2 separate regions of the Homo sapiens genome follow, and region 2 is linked to region 1. Evidence: fine-mapped expression QTL. A gene starts in region 1. The other region holds a variant in brackets. All regions are shown on one strand. Distances are from middle to middle.

Region 1 (5,386 bases):
CACAAGGGGAGGTAAAGAAATACAGAACACACATTAACTACTCTTACAAAATCTTGACTATGAAGAGAACAAGTAGTAAATCATAGGCAGCAGCAAGAGGGAGAGTCTGACTCATAGGAGGGATTTTTTCTTTTTTCCTCTCTTTTCTCCTGTTGAAGAGTTATGAACATACCAATCATCAGAATAAGGGTACCAAGGGAGAAGAAATAGTGACTGAAACTAAAAGGGAAAAAAGAATGACTGATTAGTTTCTGGAAAGGTGAGAAGATGAGAGCAGCTTTAAGTGTGTAGATAAGAGGCAGAGAAGTTGAGAGTTCATGCTTATTGGCCTTTATTTTCTCTGAGAAACAGAAGGTGAGCTTCACTACTTAATGATGGATAAGCTTTTGGAATAGTCACTAAAAAGAACAGGGCAGTGAGCATATCAGTGACAAAAAATATTGCTAAGATATAAAAACCCAGTGGAGAGTGGAAGAAAAAGGCCATACTTATATAAAGGATATCAATCTTTCTGGTTAGAGAATTTCTCCTGCTATGTTTAGCAATTTGGGTAGGAAAGAGAGAAAGGTGAATTTTATAACAAATACAGGATTTGAAGTTTGCAGAATGGGTAGAGAATAATGACAAGCTAGCAAGAGAGCTTGCTGGTGATTAGATGGGGATACAAGCCCAGAAAGGTTGGACACCTCAGTGAAAAAACAGAGACGTCAAGGGACAGGAAACATCGTTAATAATGAATGGGTTTAGGTGGAAAGGAGTAGGAAAGATAGAGAAGTTGTAGTAAGCTCCACAAGGGGAGAAAGCCTGTCTGTTTTGGTTACCCTCGTCTAGTCACAGTCAATAAACTTCCATTTCCGAATAACTGGTCAGAGAATAGGGTATTGGGATTTACGATTTGCCTGTTATGACAAAACTGGTATGATCAATGATGTAAGGTGCTGAGTAAAAGTGGAAAGCAGGGTCCCTGAAGATCCACTGAGGCTGAAGTATTAACTGGGTCATCCATGGCACGAGTTAAAATAGACTATGAAACATGTGACAAAGTTATGTGTGAAGGACCAAACTAAAAGTTGACAGATAGTGAAAAGGAATTGAGTGGAAAAAGCAAGACTGCTGAGACCTCAAAGAAGGAGAGATTTTGTTTGAAGGTGGAAAACTAATGCTTTGGGGACAGCATTTAAAAGCTGAGTGAACAATAACTTCCCCCTTCCAACATTGAGACAAAGGATGGGGAAGGAGGAGGATGTGGGAGAATAAGCAGCCCCCACTTGAAAAACTGCCAGAGAAACGTTGTCCTTGGGATAGTGCCAGGTTTCAGTTAAGGCCAGGAGGGAAGGAACATTATGTGAAGACGAACAGGGGTTCCAGAACGCAGAGTGAAAAGGGGTGGGAGGAAAGCTGTGGGAGGATGAGCCAGGACGGAAAGTACAGAACAATATGGGAATGAGATTATGAAGACAGGATGCCCGAAAGGCTTGCAGTTTGGTCACCTCAAGGAAGCTAGGGATGAGAGTTATGGAAACAATTAATGGCTAAAAGGTTTGAATCAGAACTTTGGAACAAAGCAGTTTTGGTACTGGTTTCCGTCCAAATGTTCTGTTAGTCTGATTTCTCTCTACCTTCTTAGATATTTTAATTAGAGAAACAGCAGATTCTTACCCAGTGAGACCAGGTTTCCATAATTCTCCATCATGACATCTTTATACAGGCTTCTCTGAGCTGGGTCCAGATAATCCCACTCCTCCTGGGTAAAAAACACAGCCACATCCTCAAATGTCAGCAACCCCTGAAATAGTATGATTTCTGTAGTCAGTTCCTGTTGTCTCAAGGACAATTCTACCACTAAAAGTGACAGAGGCAATCACTTATTGTGGCCAAGTAGGCTAGGAGGAACATGATAACTGAAAGTTCCATATGTTGCCCAATTCTGGGAACGAACTGTAACTGACAGACATCTCAGACTAGAAAGGACCTACGGATAAGGCTTTTCTGATTTATTATGCCCTGAGAGTTTAATTTTAGTAAACTGCCCCAAGGCCTCTCCAAGCTTCCCTCACCTCATTGCCTACTTCAATTTTCCATTTGCACTGGCTTGTGACTCTATTCAATTCAATTCCTTGAGGTTCTCTAAGCGTGTACCTTGGGGTCCAGGCACTGTGCCAGGAACAGAAGACACAAGGGAAGGTCAAAAATGGTGCTTCACCTGGAGAACTCACAAATGAGAGAGCTAGTCTGGAGCATTACTTATTTTCTCAGGCCGATTTATCAAGTCTCTCTAGAAAAAGAAAAAAAAAAAGGGAGCCAGTGGGCAGTTTGTTCGCGAACCGCACCCCAATGCACTAGTGGGGAGTTCCTTGCAAGGCGCTGGCCCTAAAGAGGCGGTCAGGAGGTTGGTGGGGGGCCTGGGGGAGAAAGCAGTGGTGCGGCCTAGCTGGGGTAGCGGCGAGACAACCGGGATCCCCGGGGGGGTGCTTACTTACCTTCGACTCCGGCGGGGGGCTCGGGGAAGCCATCTCCCAGGCAGAGAATAGGGGCAGGAATTGGGGGCGGCCTCACGGAAAGGAGCCTCTGGTGAGGCCTACCCGGCTGCTGGAAATTAGGCTCGACGAATACGAGGATCCCTGGCTGGGTCTGGCCAGTGCCTGCCTCGGCCCCCAGACGGTCACGACCCCAACAGCATATCAGACGCGATCCCTGGCTGTCCCCCAACCCCGAACCCCAACCCCTACTCCTGCCTGGTTACGCAGCCTTTCAGGCCTCGCTAGAGCCTCCTCCCCGCTGCCAGTTCCTCCTCCTTGCAGCCAAGTAACGCTATGACCGCCCGCCCCCGGACCAGAAGGCGTCACCCAGATTCTTCCCGAGGCCCCCTCAACTACAACTCCCGTCATGCTCGGAAAGAGCGCCGCGGTCCAGACGCCGCCAGCAACAGCTACTGGACTACATTTCCCAGCGTGCAAAGGGCGAGGGAGCCTACAGGAAAAAGAAAGCTCTTGCCACTGGGATTGTATCCGATTGGCTGGTCTGGGCGCGTCACTGCTGGCTGAAGGCTGCGCTCAGGCCCGTGGATCTCATCGAAGATGGCGGCGCGATCTGTGTCGGGCATTACCAGAAGAGTCTTCATGTGGACAGTCTCAGGGACACCATGTAGAGAATTTTGGTCTCGATTCAGGTAAAGCTTTATGGTGGACGGTGGGTCATGTTCAAGGAAAGTTAAGGAGGATTAGGGACGAATTCAAAATAGAGTGTTACGCCATCGTGGTCCCGCGCCTGATCAGAGCAAGGACAAGGAGGTCCGGTTAGGGTCCCGAGTTGAGAAGCACTCATTGAGTGGTGGGACCCAGTCTCTTCCACTCTCGGCCTTAGTTTTCTCATTTTATAACGGAAATACCACCCCCTTTCCTTTTCACTTCACTCATTCATTTATTTATTAAGCAAGCAGGATTAACCTCGTGTGCGAGACACCGAGTGTGTTGTCTGCAAACACATGAAAGCGCTTGGTAAACTAAACTCATTTGCCGGCTGTGTTTCTTCACAAGCAAGGTTCAGTAATGAAGTACTGCCTCCTCCTTTTGTTTGTTCATTCATTCAGTCATTCAACAGATTTCTTAGGGCCAGCATTACTCTAAGCGCCTAGGATACAGCAGGAAAAACAAAATCCATTCTCATCCTCGAGGTACTCCAACATATGAGGAAACAGGCCCACAGGAGGGAAGTGATTTTCCCAAAGTCACAAAGCAAGTTAATTGCAAAGCTGGATCTAGAACATATGTCTCCTAACTCCCCATCTACTGCTTTTTCTGCTGCACGGCTGCACCATGTGTAATTGTTTGAAGGTAAATCTAATTTGACTTAGATAGTGTTTAGGAAATCAAAACGTATGGTAGGAACCCTAGGGAGCAATGTATGCTCTCTTAGGTTTAAAACAAAAACCACTACAATTAGGAAAGATCTTTTTCATCAGTTCAGATATTAGCTTTCCCTCTTCTTTGGTCAATATTTGTTATTATCTCTCAAATCTCTTCCAAGTTTGTTTTATTCATTCACTCAACAAATATTTTTTAGGCTGTTTACTATATGCCAGGCTATATCTTAGGTGTTGTAAGAATACAGTGGTTACTAAAACAGACCAAATTTTTGTTCTCGTAGGGCATATGTTCTAATGGAGGAAGAAATGAACAAATGTGTAATGTAATTTCAGAAAGTGGTAAATTATGAAGAAAACTAGAGGAAATAGATTACTGAGAATGATGATTATATTTTCTTTACTATTTTAAAAATTTTATATATTTAAGATATACAACTTGATGTTGATTATTAGTCAAGATAATTATCATATTCATCTCTTCACATACTTTCTGTTTTGTTTTGTTTTAGAGAAAGGAGTTCTCACTATGTTGCACAGGCTGGTCTTGAACTCCTGGACTCAAGTAATTTTCCCACCTTGGCCTCCCAAATTGCTGGGATTCCAGGGGTGAGCCACCACACCTGGCCAGTTAGAATTTTTGTGTGTGTGGTGAAAACACTTAAGATTTACTCTCAGAAGATTTCAAGTATACAGTACAGTATTATTAATGATCGTCACCATGGTGTACATTAGATCTCTGGAACTTATTCATTCTACATAATTTAAATTTTACCTTTGTCCAACGTCTCTTCATTTCCGCCACCCCTGGTAGCCACCATCCTACTCTCTGTTTCTATGAATTTGACTTTTTTTTTGTTTGTGTTGGAGATGGAGTCTCACTCTGTCTCCAGGCTGGAGTGCAGTGGCGCTATCTTGGCTCACTGCAACCTCCGCCTCCCAGGTTCAAGCGATTCTCCTGCCTCAGCCTCCCGAGTAGCTGGGACTACAGGTGCCCGCCACCACGCCCGGCTAATTTTTTTATTTTTAGTAGAGACAGGGTTTCTCCATGTTGGCCAGAATGGTCTCGATCTCTTGACCTCATGATCCACCTACCTCAGCCTCCCAAAGTGCTGGGATTACAGGCGTGAGCCACTAAACCCGGCCTAATTTGACTTTTTAGATACTACATATAAGTGAGATCATGTGGTATTACTCTGTCTGGCTTATTTCTCTTAGCATAATATTTTCCAGGTTCATCCATGTGTTACAAATATCCTTTTTTAAGGCTGAATAAAATGCCATTTTTTGTGTGTGTATATATGCAAGCACATAATATATACATATATTCATACATAGGTACACATATACATATAGACACACTTATGGCATTTTATTCAGCCTTAAATATTGTGTATGTGTGTGTATACATGTATACATTTACATGTATACACACATGCTGCAATGAAGATGAGAGTGCAGATGTCTCTTTGAGATACTGCTTTCATTTCCTTTGGATATATACCGAGTAGTAAGATTGCTAGA
Region 2 (5,386 bases), 39 kb before region 1:
TATACAAGGCACTCTAGTGTTCCTAGAATACACAGAGTTCAGATTTCTTAGTGATGAAGAGCATCTAAAAAAATTACCACAAGGAAATGAAATGGGACCCATGACTCTTTCATTCTCATATCTGCTGCACCCCAGTGGCTGTTGCTCCTGGACTTCATGGTGGTGCTTTAAAACTATTTATACCGTCAGATTTGGAGCATCTTAAAAACCTACCACATCTCTCTCACAAACTGACATCTAATACTCTGATTCTATGAACAGACTAAAAAAACCATTGGAGTGTACATTTTAAGTGGGTGAATTGTATCTATGTGAATTCTATCTCAATAAAACCGTAAAAGAATTGAAAGCAGAGTCTAAATAAAGATATTTGTACACCCATGTTCATAGCAGCATTATTCACAATAGCCAAAAGGTAGAAGCAACCCGAGTGTCTATCAACAGACGAATGGATAAACAAAATGCAGCATACAATGGAATATTATTCAGCTTTAAAAAGGAAGGAAATTCTGACACACACTACAATGTGGATGAAACTTGAGGACATTGTACCAAGTGAAATAAGCCAGACACAAAAAGACAACAACTCTATGATTTCACTTACGTGAGGTACATAGTGTAGTCAAATTGATAGAGACAGAAAGCAGAATGGTGGTTGCTAGGGGGTGGTGGGGAGGATGAATGGAGAGTTGTTGTTTAATGGTATAGAGTTTTAATTTTGCAAGATGAAAAGAGTTCTGAAGATTGGTTGCCCAACAATGTGAATACACTTAATGCTACTAATCTGAACACTTAAAAATGGCTAAGATGGTAAATTTTGTGTTATGTGTGTTGTACCAGAATTTACTGAAAGTAGGGAGGCTGTGGTTCTTGTGTACCATTGCAAGGCACTACAGCCTGGATTCCTGTGAAATTCCAAATGAGCAATGATAGAAGAGTTTTCAGAACCTAGTATAGTTTTAGAAGAAAGGAATGTTCATACTCTACTTATTATTTATTTCAAAGTTCTCTGGGATGAGAATTATAAGCCAGTTACTCTAGACTTTTCTGAGATTGATACTAATATACACCTATATTGATACTCATATATCTATTGATTCATTTATTCCACAAAAGTTGATTGGTGTCTAGGCATAGTGCTGGATAATGAGGAAACATTGGTAAGACATTACTACCCCCTACCCCCCTAGGTCTTACAGTCTGACAGATTGAATCAATTGACTTGGCCTTGTAAAAAATCTCGAATATTTGGGCTTTTCATAGGACTTTTCTTTAATGTTACTTCACACAGTCATCCATAAATGCTGCAGTGACAACAGCAGCAACAACAACAACAATCTCTTGGTGTTTTTATGTACATTCTTGTATTTGGTTTGATTTTATTTGATTCTCAACTTCAATCTTCTCTTCCTTTTAGAATGCAGGTTTCTTGAGAATAGGCCAGTCTTACTCACCTCGTATCCTCTAAAAAGTCTCCATAGCTAACAAAATGCCTTATACACATAACAGCAAAACACTTTTGAGAGCCATGCTGAGAAAACATAGCTCTATCTCTAGACCAAAGTAATAACTACTGATTTTGGGGTCCTGAAACTATTCCAACCACCAAAGCAGATTGCAATATGATAAGGAAATATCTGTACCACAGTTTGGAAAATATATTTTAAAATGCCAATCGTGATTCTTCCAGTTGCATTGTGTAATGTGGTCTCTTTTTATGAAAGTTCTTTCTCTATAATATTGCTAATTCTACAGTAAGTGTAACTCTATAATATGTGAGATTTATTTGCATGTAGAAGTTTGCTTATGACTCAGACCTCATGTTATGCATTAATAACACATTTATCTCATGGCCTGTGGATTGACTTATATAGATATCACATTCAAACCAGAAGAAATATCTAGAGTTGGGCAGGGAGTAGAGAATAAGCGAGGCTGTTGTTAGAAGTATTGACTGTAACGATCATGAATAGTATTGTTGTTACATTGCCTATTTTAAGATCCTACAATCAAAGGCCTCTAAACCAGTTATGCATTCAGATCTAGCTATTTAATGAAAACCTATTCTGTACAAAGTGCCACTCATATATTATTTCATTCATGCTTCATAATACATTTCTGATAGAGGCATTCCTAGTTCATTTTACAGATGGGGAAACTGTGGACTAAGGTTGAAGAACTTCCCAGTGTTTCACAGCCTCCAAGTCCAATGCTGTTTCCACATATAATACTCAA[T/C]TTTGAACATTGTATTGTGTTAGGAGACTTAACAAAAATAAAAATAAAAACAAAAACCCTGCAAGCAGTGTATGTTGGTCAAGAGTTGCTGTTTCTCTAAGGTCCAGTAAGCCCTTAGCTTTGTTTTCCTGAACTTTGAGTTTCAGTTGCACATCAAGCCCCAGAGGTGGGCAAATGCTGATGCTACAAGAACAGCAGCAAGTGGCAGCACTCAGGGCAGGAGTACTCATGCTGTTCTGACATTCCTAGCCAGGCTGTTGTTCACATGGAGCCATGCCCAGCTCACCAAGGACACCTACGTCTGCTGACGCAAGTCATTCCTCCCTGATTAATGAAAGTTTAATGTCCAAGGTTATAAACTGCTGAGAAGGCAATAGGGAAAGAGCTAATTTATGAGTCTGCAGTTACCAAAATGTAAGCAGCTCTGCTTTAGATCACTGTCTTGGAATGAGACAAACTCTCCAGCTACCTGTACTGTGACTCTAGACAAGTTACTTGCCCTCTCTGAACCAGAGTTTTGTTATGCATAAAATGGGGGTAATAAGCGTTTCTTCAGAGAGTCGCTGATATTGGAGATAATTTATGAAAAGAACCAGGTACATCATAGACTCTCAAAAAAAGGATAGCTATTATTGTTGTATAACAAGAATAATTAGTACTAGTAGCATCTCTCAGCAGGTAGAATGTTTTAGCTATGGTTCTGACTACCCCAGCCCTGACTCCTAACAACTTTCATTACACCCACTCTCTATTCTTTCATCACCATCCACCTCTTGTTCCTCCATTCTCCTTTACCAAAAATCATAGAGGATGAAACCTCACATAGCCCCAAAGCTGGTCACATTGGTCTGACAAATATGGTAGCAGGTGCTTCAATGAGCCCAGTTGAAGATGGGGAAACCAGGAAATGTGCCATCAGATACTAAGTGGAGTCAAGGGAGCTGATAGGACCTTTCCCTGGTCTATCCCTCTACTATCCTCAGGACAGGGCTTGGTGGGAACTTCCCTAGCCAAATGAGCCTCAATATTGTGTTTCAAATACTTCAATTTCCTTCAATATTCACATTCAGTGATGAATACTTACTGTTCTCAGAAGCCTTTGTTTTCAGGAAAAACTTGATGGTGGCTGAAAACATGATGGCTCTGCTTGGAGGGAAATGCTTGTTTTCCTCTCTCTAAGTATAAATGCTCATTCACACCTTTCCTGGCTTTTTGAGAGGTGGCAAAATGCCCAAGATTGATTGCCAGTTACTTGTGTTACCTGAATGAGGCCCTTGTGAGTCTCTGATCTAGGAAAAACAACCAAAACTAAACCAAAACTCTTTTTAGATCACCTAGTTCCGTTTATTTTTTCCTTCATTTTGTTGACATTTCACCTTTTCATCCATAAATTCTGGTGTTACACTCTGCACAATCAAGCATCTTAGTTTTGTTTTCCATTTTATGAATTATTCCAGAGGAACATGTTCATGAGAATTTACCCTTTTTTGTAATTACGGTCATTCCATCACTTTTAGATTTCCCTCATTTATTTGCCTCATTCATCATTTGCCTCTGGAAGCATATAATATTTTTATTTACCTTTTCTGGAATTAAATTTGGGTTTCATACTTAGGAAAAAGCCCTGCAGAATGAACCCATACCCAGACAGTACCATATTTAGGGGTGTTGATGGCTTAGTTCAATCACTTTAATTCTAGTTTTTAACCAAATTTGAAGACAAAAGTACAAAGGTTAAAAGAGAATGGGAATACAAAACAATGATTTCTGGCATTAAATACATCAGAAAGCCCAGCTAGGTTTTGGAGGACTGGAGAAGATGGGAGAGACAATGATTTTTAAAAACAGAATGTTTTGAATTTTATTTCCAATTTGGACAAAATTCACACATGGGAAATTCAAGGATTCAGAATCAATTTCTTTTATTGAAAGATTATTTAAATTTAACTATAAATTATAGAATAAATTGTTGGAATTGACTACTAATGATATACTGAAGATAAATAATGAAAATATAGCATTGATTACCTAATTTGGAAATAATAATTCTTGAATGCCTACTGCGTACAGACACTATACAACTCACTTAATGCTCCTGTGAAATTGAGATCCCACTTTACAGAGAAGAAAATAACGGCTCAGACAAGTAAAAAACAAAACCAAAAACCCGTCACCAAGTTCATGTGTTTTGTAAGTGTTACAGCTACACTAACATTCTTCCTAGTATCATTTAATGGACCCTAGAGCTCCATCATTGACTAGCTGTATGACTTAAGGGAACCTCCTTATCTTCCTTGCCTTAGTTTCCTCATCTGTGAAATGGAGGGTCTGGATTAGGAACTCCACGGTCTAAAGACATTCCTTGCAGCTTTAACATTCTATGAGCATAAGGAGTATATGGGCATGATTTTAAGGACTGGTTGTTTATGAGCCAATCAGAGGTGTTGAATAAACACCTCCCTACTAGGTCAAGGTAGAAAGGGGAGGGCAAATATTGGAAAAAAAAAACATGATGAGAAGTCTATAAAAATTGTGTGCTACCAAAGATCTGTCTTATTTGGCAGCTGCTGCCTCACCCACAGCTTTTGATATCTAGGAGGACTCTTCTCTCCCAAACTGTAAGTAAAAAAGCTTCCTTTGTATACCTGGACAGCACCAGTGAATAAGGGGTTAATAATACTACTAAGCTTATAGAAGGGAAGATTGGTTTGCCTTTGTTTTCGGGAAAAACTTGATGGTGGCTGAAAACATGATGGCTCTGCTTGGAGGGAAATGCTTGTTTTCCTCTCTCTAAGTATAAATGCTCATTCACACCTTTCCTGACTTTTTGAGAGGTGGCAAAATGCCCAAGATTGATTGCCAGTTACTTGTGTTACCTGAATGAGGCCCTTGTGAGTCTCTGATCTAGGAAAAACAACTTGAACACTCCTATCGTTAGGTTCTAATCAGTTTTTGAGATTCCTGTTCATTTCAACTCTCAACTCTCTTTTCATAACAACTACTTATTTTAGTGATTTATTTACATATCTACTGCCTTATGTCATTTTCTACATTCTCTTCCCACACCTACTGGTACCGACACTGAAGTTTCTTTGTCACAGAAACAAACCCTTGGAGTATTTTGCCCTTCGCCTTCACCCACTGCTCAAAT

Evidence for each region.
Region 2: its variant is fine-mapped to the expression of ZNF189 in tibial nerve (GTEx, PIP 0.98).

The regions. Positions count from the first base shown.
Region 1 is chr9:101,396,284-101,401,669 of GRCh38, reverse strand. ZNF189 (zinc finger protein 189) reads right to left here and starts at 2,819. Exons shown (of 3, transcript NM_003452.4): 1 at 2,481-2,819; 2 at 1,660-1,786. The coding sequence starts at 2,513. It overlaps MRPL50 (mitochondrial ribosomal protein L50), which reads left to right and starts at 3,052. Exons shown (of 2, transcript NM_019051.3): 1 at 3,052-3,169. The coding sequence starts at 3,078. RefSeq lists enhancers at 2,819-3,348, 2,881-3,409, 3,410-3,939.
Region 2 is chr9:101,435,176-101,440,561 of GRCh38, reverse strand. ALDOB (aldolase, fructose-bisphosphate B) reads left to right here and starts at 4,788. Exons shown (of 9, transcript NM_000035.4): 1 at 4,788-4,853. The variant T/C (reference allele first, on the strand shown) is at 2,236.